3 separate regions of the Homo sapiens genome follow, and all the other regions are linked to region 1. The links come from fine-mapping of genetic effects on gene expression. A gene starts in region 1. Each other region holds a variant in brackets. All regions are shown on one strand. Distances are from middle to middle.

Region 1 (2,664 bases):
ATGAACTCCAGAATCACCCTTCCAATTGCATTTGCTGGATATCTGCCCCTGGAAGAAGGTGGCCTGCTTCTCCAATCCAACTTGCTCCACACTAAACTCAGTCACATCACTCCAGGTTCTCCTCCAGACTTCCACAATGTTACAGCCCCAGTGTGCTCCTCCTACACCACACAGTCTGTAGACTCTCCTTTGCTGCAGCTTCCGCATTCATCCCCCAGTTAAGGTCCTCATCTCACGGGACTATTGGAATCATCTCCTTCCTGTGTGGCCCCCCGCGAAGCCCTTCTCAGCAGCCAGCTGGGGTATTTAGAACGTTGGTGCTCCCGGTACAGTGGCTTTGTCAGCGTCCCCTGCCTCCAGTGGCTTCCCTGATCTAGCAACCTGGTAAATGGGTAATCTTCCTCACTGCAGCTAAGTTTCAAAAGAACACGGTTGGATAAGCACAAGGCCCTTGTTACTTTGGGAAATAGATAATCCATGCCCCACTGTTAGGGCCAGTCCCGTTAGGGCCAGCTTTGCACCTTCACAGGGACTCAGCAGGAACAGATGGGCTCTACTCTCTGTTATTCCTTTTTGCTTCAGATTAGAGAGACCTTGATTCTCCCCGGGGCCCAGGAAATGTAAAGCTGATGCTCCACAGGACTCTAAGAGGGACACGGCAGTGATGGGGGCTGGTGAGGAAGGGGGATGGAGAACCTCTCTCTTATCAGACAGGCTTGTCCCTAGGGTCCCTGGAAACCCCCAAAGGCCAACCTCTCCCAGGGGCCGACAAACGTAAAGGGCAGGGAGACCTAAGCGGGGAGCTGCGGAGCGCGGGGAGTTTGAAAGCCGCTCCACCGCCCTACTAGTCCGTCCTTTTGCCCCGCCCCCCTTAGGGATCCCCCCGGCAACCGCACAGCTGCCTCGGACTCTGACTTAATTCCCTCCGCGTGCTCTGAATCGCAGAGAGGCAAACCCCCAAACAAAGAGCCGGCAGCTCGCGTGCGGGGCTCCCGGGCGCGTCCTGCCGGCTGGGCTGGGAGAGCCGGCGCCGGGGCGTCGCGGCCGAGCGCTGGGCAGGCGGGGACTAGAGGGCCGGCAGGAAGCCTCAGTGGGCGCAGGGGCGCGGGCCGGGCTGCCCACACGCTGACCTTCCCGGGCTGGGAGGGAGGAGCGCTGGCTGCGGGCGGTGGGCGGCTGGGCGGCCCCGGGAGCCGCCGCTCTCAGTCTCTCTAGGCGCAGCTCCCTTCGCCGCTTCCGGAGCCCCTGGCAGGGTAAGTGCAGAAGCGCGCCCGAGGAGTGGGGGCGCCGCGGGAGGGGGCTGGGGGTCCAGGAGAGGCGCCTCCACCTCCGCTGCCCGCCCCGCCGGCAGTCCCGAGCTAGACTGTCCCGAGCTTCCCCCGGGCGGGCAGAGGGAAGCCGGCTGGGGATGAGGAGTGGAGGAGGCAGGAATGCCTGGGACACTCGCGGGGCATGTGAGCAGGTATTGGTGTCTGCATGGGACACGCAACACGGTGTCCATAACTATGCGCATGAGTCTGCCTTTCTGCACTTGTGCCTTGGGAGAGAGCTCTGGGCCTCTGAGGGCCTCGTGCCGTCCAGCGTGCCCGGGGCATGTCTGTTCCTCTTGAAAATGTCATTCTTTGTCCACCCTGAATTCGAGTAGCTGCCTCTCATGGCTACACCAAAATGCTGTATCTGGTGCACATTGCTTTCAGAGGGCCTGTCTGCCTGTGCAGGGATGTCCTCATGTTCTGGGCACGTCTGTGTATTTGTGACAACATGGCTGTGTAGGCCCTGTCACCTGTGTTTTCGTGCCCATCCCTGCATGTGCAGTTGGCCGGCTCCGTGTGGAAAGAAGGCATGGAAGGTTCTGGGGTGTATCCTTTTCACCAGCCATATGTGCAGTGTGCACATGTGTGAATTGGTGGAAAGTATGAAAGGGAGGCAGCCCAGTTGGGCTTGGCGGGACAGCATCTTAACTTGAGTCTAAGCTGCTGTGTGCAGGAGGAATAAGTGTTCCAGAGGTCTCCAGTTCGTGGCAAGTATTGTGAGGTGAGCGTGGGGGTGGGGGGTGAGGAGAAGAGGCAGCTTCTGGAAAAACTCATAAGTGCACTCTGGGGCATAGGGTGTGTGTGGGGGAGCGTGAAGAAGAGAATGAGGGTGGTATTAGGCCAAAGTGGATAGTCTGTGTTCAATTTGTGGGCAGCTGGATTGCAGTGGAAAGCAGCAGTTAGAGGCTGGAGACAGGTTTGAATCAGAACTTAATGGTTGTCACTGTGTCAGTAGCATTGTTCCCTGGACAGATAGGTCATCTGGGGCTCAGTTGCTTTTTGTGCAAAATGGGACTAATAACCACTGGCCCCATCTGTCTCCCAAGGGACTGGAGGCTCCAATTAATGCCTGGAAATGCTTTGATGATAGTTAAGACTCCTAGGGTAAGGGGCACTACTGGCCTACAGGGGCCAAGTTGGTGGTCTGGCGAGGGCTTAGGTGGCCCAGAGCTGTTTGGTTTGTGGGTAGCAGAGGGAGGCATTTGTGTGCTGTTTCCCACTATATTCAGCATAGCAGGAATTTTATACCCACCTTTGGACTCGTGTGTAAAATATGTACAGGCCTGTGTGATTCCCCATAGTTCTTGTGTGAGTGCTGCAGAACAAGAGGAAAACTGGCGTTGATGTCTTT
Region 2 (2,664 bases), 38 kb before region 1:
AGTTGTTGGAAATGAACATAAAGGAGAGTTTTTGGGGTACAGGCAACATTCTATAATGTTCTATTCCTTCAGCCGGGTTGTACTTAGATGAGTATGTTCATTTAGAGATAATCATTGAACTGGTATAATCCAATTTCAAATGTGTATTAAATATATTTGTGTAGTTCAAACACTACACATAGCAATAAAAAACAATTTTATCCACATATCAAACTAAGTAAATCTTGGAAATTGTGTTGAATGAAAACACATAGATAGAGATTAAAAATTTTGTAAATTATTTTAAAATGCTATATATTTTTATATAGATAAATATATGTAGTAAAGGTATAACTTCTGAATAAGAAGAGTATGTACCAATTTCAGATAACTCCATAGTTATCTATGGAGCAGTAGGGAAGGGAAGACTATAAAAGAGGACTCAATGATATATGCAACCTTTTATTTCTTAAAACATTCTTAAGTAAATATGGCAAACTGTCAACATTTGTTAAATTTGGCTGGAGGGTATATGGATGTTTGTTATATTTGCTGTAATTTTCTATATAAAAGATTTCATAATTATTTGTTTTTAATACTGCAAATATGTTCTCATGTTATCAGATATTCTGAAATAGCAAATTTTAAAGACTTATTTTTACTATTATAAATATTACTATAATAAACATCCTTGCCTTAAATACTTACTGTATCTGTAATTTCTTTTTTTATTATTATACTTTAAGTTCTAGGGTACATGTGCACAACATGCAGGTTTGTTACACAGGTATACATGTGCCATGTTGGTTTGCTGCACCCATCAACTCGTCATTTACATTAGGTATTTCTCCTAATGTTATCCCTCCCCCAGCCCCCTACCCCACAACAGACCCCAGTGTGTGATGTTCCCTGCCCTGTGTCCAAGTGTTCCCATTGTTCAGTTCCCACCTATGAGTGAAAACATGCAGTGTTTGGCTTTCTGTCCTTGGGACAGTTTGCTGAGAATAATGGTTTCCAGCTTCATCCGTGTCTCTGCAAAGGACATGAACTCATCATTTTTTATGGCGGCATAGTATTCCATGGTGTATATGTGCCACATTTTCTTAATCCAGCCTATCATTGATGGACATTTGGGTTGATTCCAAGTCTTTGCTATTGTGAATAGTGCCACAATAAACATATGCATGTGTCTTTATAGTAGCATGATTTATAATTCTTTGGGTATATACCCAGTAGCGGAATCGCTGGGTCAAATGGTATTTCTAGTTCTAGATCCTTGAGGAATTGCCACACTGTCTCCCACAATGGTTGAACTAATTTATACTCCCAACAGTGTAAAAGCATTCCTATTTCTCCACATCCTCTCCAGCATCTGTTGTTTCCTGA[C/CT]TTTTTTTTTTTTTTTTGAGTTGGAGTCTCACTCCGTCACCCAGGCTGAAGTGCAGTGGTGCAATCTTGGCCCACTGCAAGCTCCACCTCCCAGGTTCACACCATTCTCCTGCCTCAGCCTCCCAAGTAGCTGGGATTACAGGTGCCTGCCACCACGCCTAGCCAATTTTTTTGTTTTTTTAGTAGAGACGGGGTTTCACCATGTTAGCCAGGATGGTCTCGATCTCCTGACCTCGTGATCTGCCCATGTCAGCCTCCCAAAGTGCTGGGATTACAGGCATAAGCCACCACGCCCGGCCTTCCTGACTTTTTAATGACTGCCATTCTAACTGGTGTGAAATGGTATCTCATTGTGGTTTTGATTTGCATTTCTCTGATGACCAGAGATGATGAGCATTTTTTGATGTGTCTGTTGGCTGCATAAATGTCTTCTTTTGAGAAGTGTCTGTTCATATTCCTTGCCCACTTCTTGATAGGGTTGTTTGTTTTTTTCTTGTAAATTTGAGTTCTTTGTAGATTCTGGATATTAGCCCTTTGTCAGATGGGTAGATTGCAAAACTTTTCTCCCATTCTGTAGGTTGCCTGTTCACTCCAATGGTACTTTCTTTTGCCGTGCAGAAGCTCTTTAGTTTAATTAGATCCCATTTGTCTATTTTGGCTTTTGTTGCCATTGCTTTTGGTGTTTTAGTCATGAAGTCCTTGCCCATGCCTATGTCCTGAATGGTATTGCCTAGGCTTTCTTCTAGGGTTGTTATGGTTTTAGGTCTAAGATTTAAGTCTTCAGTCCATCTTGAATTAATTTTTGTATAAGGTGTAAGGAAGGCTTTCAATTTCAGCTTTCTACATATGGCTAGCCGGTTTCCCCAGCAACATTTATTAAATAGGGAATAGTTTCCCCATTTCTTGTTTTTGTCAGGTTTGTCAAAGATCAGATGGTTGTAGATGTGTGGTGTTATTTCTGAGGTCTCTGTTCTGTTTCATTGGTCTATATATCTGTTGTACCAGTACCATGCTGTTTTGGTTACTGTAGCCTTGTAGTATAGTTTGAAGTTGGGTAGCGTGATGCCTCCAGCTTTGTTCTTTTTGCTTAGGATTGTCTTTGCAATACAGGTTCTTTTTTTGGTTCCATATGAACTTTAAAGTAGTTTTTTCCAATTCTGTGAAGAAAGTCAGTGGTAGATTGATGGGGATAGCATTGGATCTATAAATTACCTTGGGCAGTATGGCCATTTTCACGATATTGATTCTTCCTACCTGTGAGCATGGAATGTTCTTCCATTTGTTTGTGTCCTCTTTTAT
Region 3 (2,664 bases), 65 kb after region 1:
CTAGCGGGAGATGAGATAACCTCCTAAGCCGCCTTTCAGCCTGAGGCCCCAGGTGGATTAACACCAAGTCTGCAGGCTGAAAGCAGTGTTCACACTCCACGCTGTCCTCCAGGTTGGGAGGGATGGAGAGGAGGAAGGAGGGGAAGAGGATGGGCCCCTTCCACACTACCTCCCCCAGCTAGCTGTCAGAGACAGTACAGGACACACGCATCTCCACCAGCCTGCTCTCCTCCCACTGGATAGAGCTCCACCTGCATCCAGGTTTGCACCGGCAAGGTCAGGGCAGCAGCAGCTGCTAGGAAAGTCAGGACACTGTTTCAATACTTAGGAGAGCCACCTTCACCCCAGGTATCACGGGACAGTCATGGGGCTGCTTTAGCCCAGTGCCCCCTCCTGTGTGCAGAGAGCCAAGATCCAACAACATGTCATCATCATTATCAGGATCATAATCACATTACCCTCAATGCATCCTTGGGTGGGAGGGAGGAGAGGAAGAGGAGGAAGAAGGCAGAGGAGGGCCCATGAAGAGCAAGGAGGGAGAATAAAGCTCCTCTGCATTCTGGAAGTGGGAGAAGTGAGAAGGCGGTGTGCAGGGTGATCCTCCCAGGCCTGTGTCTGCTTTGGACCAGATGCTCCAGCCCCTTGTTCAGCTGTGGATACCGACAGAAGGGCTGGCAGACAGGACGCCTGGGGCCTGAGCTTGGTGCTGCATTCTACACTGATTGACAGGGTGAGCTCACCAGCTCTTATTCTATGCTGACTGACAGGGTGACAGCTCAGGAGGCTCTTCCCAGAGTCTCAGTTTCCCCCATGGCTCCTGTACACCAGCCAGAGCATCGAAGATGGACCTGAGTTTTGCTCTAGAGTCTAAGGACAGCAAAACACAGGCAGACTCTTTCCTAGAGAGACAGTCCACTTCAGACAGCTCTGATGAGGGAGTGGAAACATTACTCTTAGGGCCTAATTAAATCAGGCCATCTCTGGAGAAGATCTAGGACCACAGACCAGCAGCATCAACTGGGAGCTTGCTAGGAATGCAGACTCTCAGGCCGCCACTAGGCCTGAAGAATTGTAATAAGGAGGTCCCCAGATGATTCATGCCCATTAAAGTGTGCAAAGCCCTGCTCTTGGATAGTAGATGGCAGAATGTGGTTCCCCCAGGCACACCACCATCACCTGGGAGCTTGTCAGAAATGCAGAACCTCAGGTCCCACCCTGACATTTTGAGCAGTTTTGAGCAGGAATCTGCCCTTTGCCCAGGCCCCAGGGTATTCGAGTGAGCAGCACTGCTCCAGGGCCCTGAGGGCCGGCAGCTTCCAGGAGTTCTGATTTCTCTTTGCTCCTCTGCTCTCTCCACCTGGCAGATCTGCGGGATGGTTCTCACCTGCTGCTTGCACCAGAGGCTCCAGCGGCATTTTTACTAATGGCCAACCACCTCCTCTTCCAACTGCCCCTCAAGACAACATGTGGCCACATGCCATCTGCAAGGCCTGCAGAGTTAGCACCAGCTCCACTAGGGCCATAGATGCCCCCTCCTTTGTGCCTAGCTCCTGCGAATCCACCGAGTGCCTGAGACCATAGCTTCTGTGCCCACCCAGGCAG[A/G]GACCCTCGGCCCCCTCTCCTCCATTTCTGAGCCCCCATGGCCAGATCCTGGGCAGGGAAATGATCCTTTCAGGAGACAACCAGAGCCCCTCACCAGGAACGGGGGCACCCGTGGACTACGGGAGGGTGGCGGTTGGGTTCTCTGCTCCCTCCCAGCTCCTGAACCTGGAACAATCGGCAGAAAACCCAGGAACCCCGGCACTCCTGCATTCAGCACGGGATTCCCCCACCCATGCCCAGAAGCCCTGACCTTGCTGTTTCTGGAAAAAGCATGGGGTGGGGCAGGGAGGGCTGGCATTTCCCCCAGAAGACCTTGCCCTTTGACCTGCCCACTCTCCACACTGCCTCACCTGGAAAGCCATGTCCTGCTGGCCTCATTCCTTCCTGAAGGGCCTAGGAGTGGGGAGGCCTGGGTAGGGCAGCCACAGGCTGGGTAGAGCCGCCCTGGCAGGAAGCAGGGGGTAAGGTGGCCATACCAGCACATGCTGCACTAGGAGCAGAGCCCTGCACCTGCCTAGCTGCCTTCCTGGGAGAAACCTCCCTGGGAGACCATGGCCCCAAGCCCTGGCCTCTAGTGATACGCCCCTCGGGAATCTCCTGTTCCGGGGCCTGATTCTCAGGAACACCAGGTTTCAGACCATCTTCAGCACCTAATGTTGATGGGTGTCAAACATCTCCTGGAGTGGACCAACTCGCAACCCTGCAAAGTCGGAGCTGCTGAGAAGGGGCAGCTCTGAATAGAGGGGCATCTGCCTGAACCTCACTTTTCCTGGGGCCCTCTCCTTGACCCCGTAGCCACCACCACACTGCTTCCAGGGGGTCCAGCTCTGCTTCCCTTCCCACCTGTCCTAGAGTGGACAGAGCTTTTTCCTTGGGTTCTCTCTTGCATCACTAAGTTCAGCAGGGAATTTGCGGAATTTTCAGGAAGAACTTTCCCCAGTAATAAGGGAGAACAGAAAGAAAATCCTAGAAAATACAGAGTATCCATGCTGGCAGCTTTTTGTACAACACCCATAGGGACCCCCCCAAATGGCTATTACAAAGGGGCAGCCCATTCACTAC

Which allele goes with the higher level. Alleles are on the strand shown, and positions count from the first base shown. SD is a standard deviation of normalised expression in the study named. Not every link is listed here.
With allele C in place of CT in region 2, the expression in prefrontal cortex of the gene that starts at base 1,205 in region 1 is lower (large effect, 1.0 SD a copy in ROSMAP).

Evidence for each region. PIP is the estimated chance that this variant, and not a neighbour inherited with it, causes the effect.
Region 2: its variant is the best candidate, but not a certain one, in a credible set for the expression of TSPAN11 in prefrontal cortex (ROSMAP, PIP 0.84).
Region 3: its variant is the best candidate, but not a certain one, in a credible set for the expression of TSPAN11 in putamen (Braineac2, PIP 0.80).

The regions. Positions count from the first base shown.
Region 1 is chr12:30,925,544-30,928,207 of GRCh38, forward strand. TSPAN11 (tetraspanin 11) reads left to right here and starts at 1,205. Exons shown (of 8, transcript NM_001370302.1): 1 at 1,205-1,253. It overlaps LOC124902911 (a long non-coding RNA gene), which reads right to left and starts at 1,146. Exons shown (of 2, transcript XR_007063264.1): 1 at 1-1,146.
Region 2 is chr12:30,887,980-30,890,643 of GRCh38, forward strand. No RefSeq gene overlaps it. Among named protein-coding and RNA genes, the nearest start is that of TSPAN11, 37 kb to the right of the region's middle. The variant C/CT (reference allele first, on the strand shown) is at 1,366.
Region 3 is chr12:30,990,492-30,993,155 of GRCh38, forward strand. It overlaps TSPAN11 (tetraspanin 11), which reads left to right. Exons shown (of 8, transcript NM_001370302.1): 8 at 1,365-2,664. The coding sequence ends at 1,424. The region is part of intron 2 of TSPAN11-AS1 (TSPAN11 antisense RNA 1); the gene reads right to left. Among named protein-coding and RNA genes, the nearest start is that of TSPAN11-AS1, 14 kb to the right of the region's middle. The variant A/G (reference allele first, on the strand shown) is at 1,603.